Regions from separate parts of the Homo sapiens genome. Here all the other regions are linked to region 3. Evidence: fine-mapped expression QTL. A gene starts in region 3. Each other region holds a variant in brackets. All regions are shown on one strand. Distances are between the middles of the regions.

Region 1 (4,244 bases), 25 kb before region 3:
ACTTAGTTAAATATGAAGGACAATACAAACTTGCAGATGTCATATAGTTTTTTTGTTTTTGTTTATTTTTGTTGTTGTTGTTTTTGAGATAGAGTCTTGCTCTGTCACCAGGCTGGAGTGCAATGGCGCGATCTCAGCTCACTGCAACTTCCGCCTTCCAGGTTCAAGTGATTCTCCTGCCTCAGCCTCCCAAGTAGCTGGGACTACAGGAGTGCGCCACCACACCCAGCTAATTTTTGTATTTTTAGTAGAGACGGGGTTTCACCATGTTGGCCAGAATGGTCTTGATCTCTTGACCTCAGGTGATCTACCCGCCTCAGCCTCCCAAAGTGCTGGGATTACAGGTGTGAGCCACTGCGCCCAGCCTGAAGAATGTTTTAATTTAAATTCTGTTTAAATAGAAATTTAAAATTCAATGATTCAAAAATTCAGATGAATTTAAAGAATTTGTCTCTATGCAATGGATAACATACCATTTTTTTTCTTTTTATTCAAACTCATTTTCCAACCCATAACCAGTCACTGAAATTTCAGGTATCCTAGGCGAACTTTTCCCTATGATTCATTTTCATTTACTTTTCATTGATTTTATTTTACAGACTTGTGAGTATTAAATAAATAGCTCTCACTGAGAGCTATTAAATGACAGAAGATGTTTAAGTATTATAACATTTAGTTGTTACAGTAAACTCATTAATATTATGTACTTGTCCTATTTGGGCTAAGTAGAAATGTTTGCATAAATTTCTATACAAGGCCAGCTTGCACCACATTGACTACACAAAGCAAATCGTAGGTGTATGACTGTCGCATTGCTGAATACATTCAGATAATCAGAGGCTCCTTGCATAACTTGTAGCCCAAGCATCGCCAGGATGGCCATGGGAATTGTCATCTGACACCTGATGTCACGTCCTGGGAAACACATTCAGACCCTTTGGATGCACAGAGGCAGTGGGGCATCAAGGGTGTGAGTCTTTTCTTTCTGTGACCCAGGTGAGTAACTTGCTTCCCCTTATGTGCCCTGCTAGTGGACCCGGCTCATAACAGCTCCAGACCCTGATGCTACTGGTGGAGGCCAAATTAAAGCATAAGGGAGTGGTTATTCAGGAGGGATATTTCCAAGCTATAGAAGCTAACCAATTGCTTTCCTCTGCTCCAGATATATTTCTTCCTAAAGAACCAGGACTCTGTGGGTGATCAACAGTTACAATACTGATTAGACACTTAGGAATTTTTATTCAGTCTTTTCCTAACCCTGCAGGGACCTTCCTATTTCTTCCCATAATTGCCACGTCTTTTTTTTCACTCCAGGAATTCTCCTGTCAGAATTCATCTCAGTTTCCCATGCTCTCTTGGCCTTTGTAAACTGGCTGGCAGGAAGTCTGGGATCCCAGGATCCTGTCTGTTAATAACAGCAAATTTAGACGGGTGTGGCGGCTCACACTTGTAATCCCAGCACTTTGGGAGGCTGAGGCAGGTGGATCACTTGAGGCCAGGAGTTCGAGACCAACTCCTGGCTAACATGGGGAAAATTTTTGTATTTTCTCTACTAAAAATATAAAAATCACCTGAGCCTGGTGGTGCATGCCTGTAATCCCAGCTGCTTGGGAGGCTGAGGCACGAGAATTGCTTCAACCTGGGAGGCAGAAGTAATAGTGATCTGAGATTGCACTCTAGCCTGGGCGACAGAGCAAGACTCTGTCTCTAAATAAATAATAAACAAAATTAAGAAGAGATAGGGTTGGTAAAGAGGAGCCAGTAAAGGACATGGAAACAGGCAGGCCACCAAAGGTGGTTGTAGTGGCAACTCCTGCTTTTCTTCCAAGTCATAGACCTGCCTCCCTTGGATTGGGGAGATGCCTCCTGTTTTTTTCCTGTAATCTCAACTCCATTTGTTTATGGCACTGTAAAAATATATGTCCCTTTTTCTAACCTCTTGGGATTCCCTGAGGACAGGGACTGTGCCTGAGCATTTTTGTGTCCCAAGCACCTAGCATCTACGAGTGGACAGGCATTTTCTGGGCTCAGGGCCTCTTCCTGCTCTTTCATCCTTAAGCATTATTTGCTGGCCCACTTAAAGAGGAACCATCAGACTGAAGTGGCTGTAATGCCTTGGGTTCCCACAGAAGCAAACCAAAACCTAAGTCAAATGCATTTCTTATAAATGACTGACTGAGAGGAAATGAAATTTAAGCTTCACCAATCCAAAACCTCCAGCTAACCTCCAATTACATAACTAGGGGACTTTT[A/T]TCTGGGTAATCCAAATAAGGCAACAACATAATTGTAAACAATCAATTATTTTCCATGCTTTGCTTCCTCATTCACCTTATAAAAGCCTTTCCTTCAAGCCTCTCAAATGAAGCTCCAGTCCACGGTTGGGTGCTGCCCAATCCATGGATTTTCGTTTGCTCAAATAAACTCTTTGAATTGTTAATCGTGCCTCAGTTTAATTTCTAACACAGTCAACCTTCTTCAGTCCTTCAGTGAGGTAGAAGATATGGAAGAAAAAGTCCAAGGAAGAATTACCTAGGATCAACACAGAAAGTAAAAGGAAATGAGAATGTGCAGAAGAACAGTTAGTTTCCTTTGAAGTATTAAGGGAGCTTCCTTAATCCTACCTGGACAGTGAAGATCTCTGAGGCCATTGGTGAAAACATCTTCAGACCACCCTAATATCTTTTTTTAAATTTTTTATTTTTTTATTTTTTGAGATGGAGTCTCACTCTGTCTCCAAGCTGGAGTGCAGTGGCACGATCTCACTGCAACCTCCCCCTCCCGGGTTCAAGCAATTCTCCTGCCTCAGCCTCCCAAGTAGCTGGGACTACAGGCACATGCCACCACACCCAGCTAATTTTTGTATTTTTAGCAGAGACGGGGTTTCACCATGTTGGCCAGGATGGTCTTGATCTCTTGCCCTCATGATCTGCCCGCCTCGGCCTCCCAAAGTGCTGGGATTACAGGCACGAGCCACTGCGCCTGGCCCCCACATCCTTTTTATTTAAAAAATTGTTTTTGAGACAGTGTCTCGCTCTGTTGCCCAGGCTGGAGTGCAGTGATACAATCACGGCTCACTGCAGCCTCAACCTCCAGGCTCAAGCAATCCTCCCACCTCAGCCTCCTGAGTAGCTGGGACGACAGGCACACTCTACCATGTCCACCTAATTTTATATTTTGTAGATACAGGATCTCACTATGTTGCCCAGGCTGGTCACAAACTCCTGGGCTCAAGCAATCCTCCCACCTCAGCCTCCCAAAATGCTGGGGTTACAGGTGTGAGCCACCATACTTGTCCCTCACCTCCATATAGTGCGACATGTCATTTTCCTAATACAGACTCTCATTATTCTCTCATTTTTTCAAAAGAGAAACTGTGTTTCCACTATGTCTTCATTTTTCTTATCCCCAGATCTTCCTCCATACATAACTTTTTTCTTTTTAAATTCAGACATGCACAAATATTTCTGTTGTATCAATTAGGAATAAGTATGAATGCTCACAACAGAAAACCCAATTTATAGTGACTTAGGTTTTATTTTTCTTAGGTAACAAGGAGAATAGAAGCAGGCAGTCTAGGACTGGAGTGATGGCTCCGCTGTGCCACCAAAAGTTCTGCTTCCTTCTGTGTCTGCCTGCCCAGCCTGACCTTGTGGCTTGTGTCCTCATGCTCATCACCTTCTGGTTACAAGACACCCATGACCTATAGCATATGATCCCACTTCCAGCCTGAAAAGAAAGAAAAGGCAAAGGGCAAAAATCTTGCTCTAGTTGAGTTTGCCTCCTTGTAAATAACTTTCCTAGAAGCCCCACCCAACAACTTACGTTTACATCTCATTGGCCAGAACTGTGTCATGTGGCCAGTTTGGGTGCAGGGGAGGCTGAGAAGATTTAAGTTGGGCACATTGCTATCCTTAACAAAATCAGGGTCTGTCCGCAGGGAAGAGGAAAGAGTAGATATTGGGTGGACAATCAGCGGTATCTGCCATAACTGTCCGAAAAACAAAATTTGGGTAGGTATTAGATTGGCATAACCTTCCTGGAAAATATTTTGGAATTATGAATCAAGGGCCTTAAAAATAGCTCCACTCTCACCTAGTAATTGCATTTCTAGAAGTCTGTCCTAAGAAAAGAGTCAGAAGTACAGATCAAGAATTCTGTGCATAATTTTTGTCTTTAAATTTTAATTATAATAAATTCTAACTTTTTGAAGAGGTCATACATTTACATGCTTCAGAATTAAAAAG
Region 2 (4,244 bases), 56 kb after region 3:
GAATTCTCTCACTTTTGTTTGGCTGAAAATTTATTTTGCCTTCATTTTTGAAGGATATTTTTGTTGCTATAGAATTCTGTAATAGGCAGGGTTTTGTTTTCCTTTCAGTACTTTAAAGATATAATTCTACTGTCTTTGGATTCCAATTACATGGACGTTAGACCATGTCCCACATCAATCTTTGCCCTGGTCTCTTTCTATTATTTCTTCTCTCTGTGCTTCAGTCTGAATATTTTCTATGTTACTGCCTTCGAAGTCACTAATTCTGTCTCCTGCTGTATTCTGACTCTGTTAAACCCATCCAATATGTTCTTAGTTTCAGAAATTGTATTTTTCAAATCTAGACTGCCATGTGATTATTCTTATAGATTCTAACTTTTTAAATTCTCCATCTTTTCATCCCTTTTGTACTTTTCCTCTATTTTCTTTAAGATATTATTCCTAGTTGTTTTAAGTGCCTTGTATGTTAACTGCAATATCTAGGTTATTTGTGAGTCTGCTCCTAGTTTATTTGTTCCCTTGATTATTAGTTACATTTTCCCACCTCTTCACATGTCAAGTAATTTTTTACCGTAGGCCCAACTTGTATATAAAACAACATGAGGGATAAAATCATAAAACTCTTAGAAGAAAACGTAGAGGTGAATCGTCATGACCTTGGTTTTGGTAATGGATTCTCAGATAAAACACCAAAAGTACAAGTAACAAAAGAAAAAACTTGATAATATGGACTTCACCAAAATTAAAAACTTTTGTACATCAAAGGACATTATCAAGAAAGTGAAAAGATAATCTATAAAATATCTGCAAATAAGGGTTTAATACTCAGAATATATTAAAAGACTACTACAACTCCACAACAAAAAGACAAACAATCCAATTTTTAAAATGGACAAAGGGCTTGAGTAGACATCTCTCCACAGAAAATACATGAATGGTCAATAAGCAAATGAAAAGATACTCAACATTAGACATTGGGTAAAATGCACATTAAAACCACAATAAAGTACCATTCCACACCTACTAGAATGGCAAGAATTTAAAAATAATAATAATAACAAAATGCTGGCAAGGATGTGAAGAAACTGAAACCCTCATACATTGCTTGTGGGAATGTGAAATGGTGTGGCTGCTGTGGAAAACAGTTTGGCAGTTTCTCAAAAAGTGGTACATAAAATTACCATACGAGTCAGCAATTTCCACTCTTAGTATACAGCCAAAATAGGAACTTGACCATATACTTTTATGTCAGTCTTCACGATACATACTTTTTTTGTCTATTCCCAATAGACAAAAGGTATAAACAACCCAGTGTCCATCAACTGATGAATGAATAAACAAAATGTGGTATATACCTACAATGAAATATTTTTCAGCCATGAAAAGGAATGAAATACTGATGCATGCTATAACATGGGTGAACCTTCAGGACATTATGTGAAATGAAATACATCAGTCACCAAAGACAAATACTGTTATGATTCCACCTATATTAGGTACCTAGAAAGGGCAAATTCATAAAAACAAGAAGAGATTTGACCTTATGGGCAGCTGGGAAAAAGGAAGAAGTAGAGTTATTGCTTAATGGTTACACTTTCTGTTTGGGAAATGGATAGTAGTGATGGTTGCTCAATCAATACTGTGAATGCAATTAATGGCACTGGATTATGCACTTAAAAATGGTTAAATGGCAAATTTTATCTTATATATACATATGTATGTGTATATATATGTGTGTATTTGTGTATGTGTGTGTACACACGCACCCCACAATTGAACAACAAACAAACAAAAAAATGCCCAAATTCTTAAGCTAGGATCATATCACAAAGGTCAAATTTAACAATTTTGAATGGTTGGATTTGTTTTAACGCACAATAGTAAGCAAAATGTGATCATTTACTATATGCTTGATGTTATAAATTAACATTCAATACAAATAATCATCCTTATCTTCTGATAAACAAGACATCGGGCAAGCCAGATAAAAGCCAGCTCATTGGTATTATTTGGGACATCTGAATATACATGAGATGTGGGAGCACTCTCACCTCTCTGGCTGTGTGGTTCCCCAGAACTGCAGCACCAAATTTGCCCTGCTTTACATATTGACCATTTGTGCTA[T/C]AAAAGGAAGAGAAACAACAAGTATTAATACTTCCCTAAATTCTGCAGAACCAGCTTTCTTTTCTGTCATACAGAAGTGGGAACAACAGTCATTCAGCCTCTAGGCAGGGACACAGGTGAGCGGTTTAAAATTTTTTTTTTTTTTTTTTTTTTTGAGACAGAGTCTCGCTCTGTCACCAGGCTGGAGTGCAGTGACATGATCTTGGCTCACTGCAACCTCTGCCTCCCAGGTTCAAGCAATTCTTCTGCCTCGGCCTCCCAAAGTGCTGGGATTACAGGAGTGCGCCACCGCACCCGGCCCAGCAGTTTATAATTTAAAGCTCATATACTATTCCCTTACTCTTTAAATATAAATATCTATCATTCATGCTATCTCAGTGGAGAGGCTTTCTTTGAGCATTTGACAGCTGTTGAGGGTACAAGCACTCCCTAAAGACAGTAGACAAGATAATGGCTTTTCAAGTTTTACCACAGAAATCTCCAATTCAGATGTTAAAAGTTCTACTGATATTTTGTCCGTGGAAGGGCTAAATAACCGTTTTGCAACAAACAGAGGTTTTTCGAGAAAAAGTAGCTTAACTGCACGCCCTTCCACCAAACTTCAGAGGGTGTTCCTTCTCAGCGACTTACTATCGATATGCATGGACTGCTGTTGCGACCAGTATTGTGGGAGTGCTCATGGTGGCTGGTGCTGTTTTTGGTGTTGCCTGATTTCCTGAAGATGAACAAGAAAACAAAGTTGTCATTCACTTCTTGCTTTAAACTAATTTTTTTTAAAGACGGAGTTTCACTTTGTCACCCAGGCTGGAGTGCAGTGGCGTGATCTCGGTTCACTGCAACCTCCACCTCCCGGGTTCAAGCCATTCTCCTGCCTCAGCCTCATGAGTAGCTGGGATTCCAGTTGCGTGCCACCACATCCGGCTAATTTTTGTATTTTTAGTAGAGATGGGGTTTCACCATGTTGGACAGGCTGGTCTTGAACTCCTGACCTCGTGATCCACCTGCCTCAGCCTCCCAAAGTGCTGGAATTACAGGCGTGAGCTACTGTACCTGGCCTTAAACTAATTTTTAACCACTGAACTAGCTTCAAAATTGATCTTTATAATTTACAGTCAGTGTTGTAATGCTTTTATGATTATCCTTATTTGATCCACAAAGCAGCCCTATGATCTAGTCTGGGGGTGAAGAAACTGAGGTTCTAATCACCCAAGTGCCTCACACAATTATACCATGATAGTGCCTAGGTCTGAAACCCATGACTCCAACTCCCAACCCACACACCCCAAATAAGTCTTTGGCTAGACAAGGAGTACTGTCTAAAAAGTGATAGTCCATCTATTTTATTTTCTCCTTCCAGTATTTTGACAGCTATAATATATGAAAATAAAGTTATTTCCCCTTCCCTGTCTTCTAGGGTGGGAAATTCAGTAAGATATTTAAATCACACCCATTAATTAACTTCACAAAGTACTACAGAGTAGGCTGGGCGCAGTGGCTCGTGCCTGTAATCCCAGCACTTTGGCAGGCCGAGGCAGGTGGATCACGAGGAGTTCGAGACCAGCCTGGCCAATATGGTGAAACCTTATCTCTACTAAAAATACAAAAATTAGCTGGGGGTGGTGGCGCGCACCTGTAGTCCCAGCTACTCATGAGGCTGAAGAGGAAGAATCGCTTGAGCCTGGGAGGCAGAGGTTGCAGTGAGCTGAGATCGCACCACTGCACCCCAGCCTGGGTGATGGAATGAGACTCCGTCTCAAAAAAAACAAAAAAACAACAAAAAAAAGGGACTACAGAGTAACACTAACATTTTCAAATACCATGTTAAGAGTAAATCACATTTATACTCACTATATGAATGTGATGGAAGAGTAGTGAGATAATACTGATGCGGACATGACATGCAAGAACTTATATTTTGAAAGAACTCGTTTGATTTTTTCTGTATTAACACTTTTTTTTCTGATTATAGAGTACAAGTGCATTGTAGGAAACTTAGAAAATACAGAAACACATAAATTAAAATGCAACATTTTTGTGTGTACTTCCAGTTATCTTCTTATAATAAATTCCTTAAAATGGAATTATGGGGTAAAGGAGTATAAAAAATTTAAGGTTTGGTT
Region 3 (4,244 bases):
AACCTTGAATGTGCACGCTCCTCCTGTGTCACACACATCAGATCCACAATACTGCTCATGGCATAAATATAAAATAATAGAGGTATCGTTGGAGAGAAGATGGAAGGCTAGTTGATGGAGTTAACAGGGAAAATATGCAAAGGTCCTGGCCATAACATGTTCAACTCCACCCTCAGGCTCACTTATAACTGCAGATCAGCACGTGGAGGGCAGTTGCAGGTCATCCATTCCACCCCTCACTGTACGGATGGGGACATCGAGGTCCCAGAGACGGGCAGTGGCATCCTTGGGGATCACACAGCCTTACCTACACATAAAGACCCAACATTCTGCAGGAATTACATGTTGTGCATGTGGTCTTTTCATGAGTCTCAAGTTCCTCTACTGAACCTCAGAAGGAGAAATGACTGGTTGGATTTCCGCTCTATCAACTGACTACAAATGAGCCCAGGTTAAAGGGCCTCTAAATAATCTTTGTGACACTCAAGGCAGTGCCATCTTTCCTGAGTGGGGATTCTGTCTCGGGGGGTCTAGGTGTGCTATGGAAAGACAACAACAGACTATTGCTCCGTGAAAGGAGGGGAGTCATGGGCTGTCAAAACACAGAATCCGGAATCTCTTGCCATGGACCCAGGCTTGGGTGGCTGTGTTGTGATCTTATGATCTAGGATCCCATGGTTTGCAACAAGCTCTCTGCCTGGGGGACAGGGAAGGAGTGCCTCTGGTGGTACAGAAAGAAATTTTAGGACTCCCTGGCTAAGTGTTGTAACCAAAACATCCATGAGGAAGTTAGAAGTAAGTGTAAAGGTCATCAGATTGTGACAAAGCCAACAAAAACCGTCAAATGAATAAAGCTGTGTTGCAGATTCTTCAATGCAGGTGGGGGGAGTGGGGTGCACCAGAGCCCACTTATGTGAAGGTCAGATTATCTTACTCCTGCTTCCCATGTAAGGCCCAGAGAGGTGAAAAGCTACACCCAAAGCCCTCCCCAGCTCTTGGAACCCAGATGCTTCAGAGATACCCTTAGCCCTTCTCCCCAGTGCTTCCCCATGGCCCAGTAAACCATGACAGCAGCAGCTCTCCCTCTCCAGCCCCATCACAGTGCCACGGCCCATGTTCTCTCCCTGAAGCTGCTCCATTAGCTTTCAGACTGAGAATCTTAAAAGCTGTGTGGGCCGGGCAAGATGGCTCACGTCTGTAATCCCAGCATCCCAGCACTTTGGGAGGCCGAGGCGGGCAGATTACGAGGTCAGGATTTCAAGACCAGCCTGACCAATATGGTGAAACCCCGTCTCTACTAACAATACAAAAATTAACCAGGCATGGTGGTGCGCGCCTGTAGTCCCAGCTACTCGGGAGCCTGAGGCAGGAGAATTGCTTGAACACGGGAGATGGAGGTTGCAGTGAGCCAAGATCGCGCCACTGCACTACAGCCTGGGCGACAGAGCGAGACTCTGTTTCAAAGAAAAGAAAAAAAGCTGTGTGACCCTGAGGATTCTACCATTTACTGAACAAGCTCCCACTGCCAGGTTACATGATAATTTAACATGTATGTTTTCATTTAATCCCTATGACATAGATTTTATTATTATTTTCATTTTACTGACCAGAAAACTGAGGTTCAGAGATGTAAGCTATTTGCCTACGGTCCCAAAGCCAATAGTTGATGCGTATGGATGTGAACTGAGGTTAGCTCCAGGCTCAAGGTCTCTGCTAATACTGTCCTTAGTAAGGTTTCTCTGAAGAGCCTCTTTACTCATAGGCTGATTAGCAAAGGGTTCCTAAATATGCTTAAGAATCAATAACCATTAAAAATCCCTCACCCTACAAGAAACTCCCCATCAAAAAACTGGATCAGTGAAATGAACAGGCAATACACAGAAATGGAAGTACCCGTAAGAAAAATAGTTTACTACCCTAGTAATCAAAGAAAAACAAAATTACACGGGTGTATTCCTTTTGGCTTATCAGATTGGAAAATATTTTTCTAAAAAGAAAAATGTAATTATCTTGTAATGACTACACTAAAAATCTAGGGCATAATTGACTTAATTTACTCCAAATGTGTTGCTATTGCGTCCATAGCACGGACTTGCCCATTTCAACTCAATATATGTTACGCTTGGGGTAGTTTATTACAATGAGCAATAAACATTCTCATAATCGCCAAGACAAGCCAAGTGCAAAACAGGAAGGGCGAAGACAGAGGGCAGCAGGTGGTCCCTCTCGCTCGCGACTCCGGGAACGCCAAGCCTCAGCCCTTGGGAACCTGGGGCGAGGCGCCTGGGTCTCGGCCAGGGGGCGCGCCCGAGGACGCCGAAGTAGGGCGCGTGTGGGGACCACAACTCCCAGGCGCCCGCGCGCCGCCTCGCCCGGACCACGTGATCCGTGCGGCCAGGGTAGCTATCGCGGCGGCGGCGGCGGCGGCGGTTGAACTGACTCGGAGCGAGGAGACCCGAGCGAGCAGACGCGGCCCTGGCGCCCGCCCTGCGCACTCACCATGGCGGTAAGGGCCGGGCGCTACGGTGAAGAGGGTGGGCGGTTGGGGCGGGGTCTCCTGGAGCTGCCATCTCGGCACCCCGAATCCTCGCTGCCGCTGGCCCGGGGCTGGTGAAGGGTGTGTTGGCAGCATTGCCAACAGCTGGAACAGGGTTGGGGGACGCGGCAGGTATAGGTTGCGGTGGCTCTGTGGTTTTCCTCTTTATTTGTCCCTCCTGCTGGGAGGCAGTCCGGCTAGGCGAGCAGTTACCGAGCGCCCGCGGTGGCGCGGCTTGAGAGTGGGGGCGCGGTGGCTGAAGACAGCTGGGTCCGGGGCCCCCGGCCCCGGACCTCTGGCCGGCGCCCCAGGGCGGAGAGCAGCGCCTTGGGAGATTCCAGGAAGGCTTCCACGAAAGGGAAACCCCCGGCGCATTTCAGCCCGCAGCCCCGCGCGCACACCGAGCGCACATCCCCGGCCCTGCTCTTGTCAAGTTTGTAGCCTGATTCTTCGGGGAATAAAACAGAACCAGCTACTTTCCAGCTTCCCTACACTTTCAGTCAGAAAACAGCGTTTCAGACAAGCTGTTTTTCTTGGTAGGGTTCACCTGGGCTGGAGAGAACGACAGCTTGCAAGACTCGTTCGTCTTTGAAGAAGTCATATCATTTTCTTCATCCCATGAAGAATGTCATAGAATTTAAGATACAGGAAGCTCAGCCTGGGCAACATAGCTAGACCCCGTCTCTACAAAAATTAGCCACAAGTGGTGGCAGGCGCCTGTAATCCCAGCTACTCGGAGGCTGAGGCAGGATGAGGAGGATTGCTTGAGCCCAGAAGTTCCAGGCTGCAGTGAGCCATGACCTTCGGCCTGGGCAACAGAACAAGACGTCCTCAAACAAACAAAACAAAAAAAAAAAGATATAGGAAGTGTATGTAGGCCATTTAGTGAAATGATCAGCCGTCCTTTAAAAAGGGAAATAGATGGAAAGCACTTGCAAAAGTTCCCCAGCCAGTCAGCCTAGCAACTGGGACCTTCATCTCCTTCCCAACCCTTGTTTACAAATAAGGAAGCTTTTCTCAAAGTGTAAGTAACCCCAAATGAAGAAATATAGAAGAAAACAAGTTCCAGGGATTGCTCCCTCCTTCACCACAGCCCCACCCTGAAAAAAGCACAAATCAGTTAAACTTTCAGAGGCCAAGATTCATCCCAAGTAGGAAAACAAGATTGGGGCCCTGCCCCTTGCCTATCTGACCACAAAGCCCTTTAATTGAAAACTGTAGCCCAGATCGCTTCTCTCAAGTCAGGGTGTGCTGACTTCCATCTTTTCCTCTAGCAAAAAGGCAAAAGTAGAAAGGGTTGAGTGACAGGTGAGTCTTCGTCCCTCTGGGGCTTCGGACTCCGTGGGTGTTTCCAGCTCTGAACAAACCATACAGTTCATCTTCCCAGCTATCTCCTGCTTCTCTGGCTTCAGAACCATCCTAGCCAACTGCTCTCTGGCCAGGGCAGGTGTCTCTCAGGCGGCTTGGTCCCCAGCACCCCCAGGGAGCCTCCACTGTGCCTCCCTTTCTCTGACCTACAACCTGTTGTAATTATTTGCTCACTTAAATGTCCCCCCTCATAGACAGGTAGCTCCCTAAGGGCCAAAGACTTGTCCCATTCATCTCTGTATCGCCAGGGTCTGCACAGACCTAGCACAACAAAAAGAAATCTTTCAAATTACTCTTACTGTTCTGTGGGTGTTCAGGTCTATGGCAAAACATGTCTGGG

The links. PIP is the estimated chance that this variant, and not a neighbour inherited with it, causes the effect.
Region 1: its variant is fine-mapped to the expression of SLC31A2 in whole blood (TOPMed, PIP above 0.99).
Region 2: its variant is fine-mapped to the expression of SLC31A2 in whole blood (INTERVAL, PIP 0.91).

The regions. Positions count from the first base shown.
Region 1 is chr9:113,123,460-113,127,703 of GRCh38, forward strand. No RefSeq gene overlaps it. Among named protein-coding and RNA genes, the nearest start is that of FAM225A, 13 kb to the left of the region's middle. The variant A/T (reference allele first, on the strand shown) is at 2,253.
Region 2 is chr9:113,204,458-113,208,701 of GRCh38, forward strand. FKBP15 (FKBP prolyl isomerase family member 15) reads right to left here. Exons shown (of 28, transcript NM_015258.2): 3 at 2,755-2,839; 4 at 2,052-2,121. Among named protein-coding and RNA genes, the nearest start is that of FKBP15, 15 kb to the right of the region's middle. The variant T/C (reference allele first, on the strand shown) is at 2,125.
Region 3 is chr9:113,148,575-113,152,818 of GRCh38, forward strand. It overlaps SLC31A2 (solute carrier family 31 member 2), which reads left to right and starts at 2,433. Exons shown (of 4, transcript NM_001860.3): 1 at 2,433-2,506. The coding sequence starts at 2,501.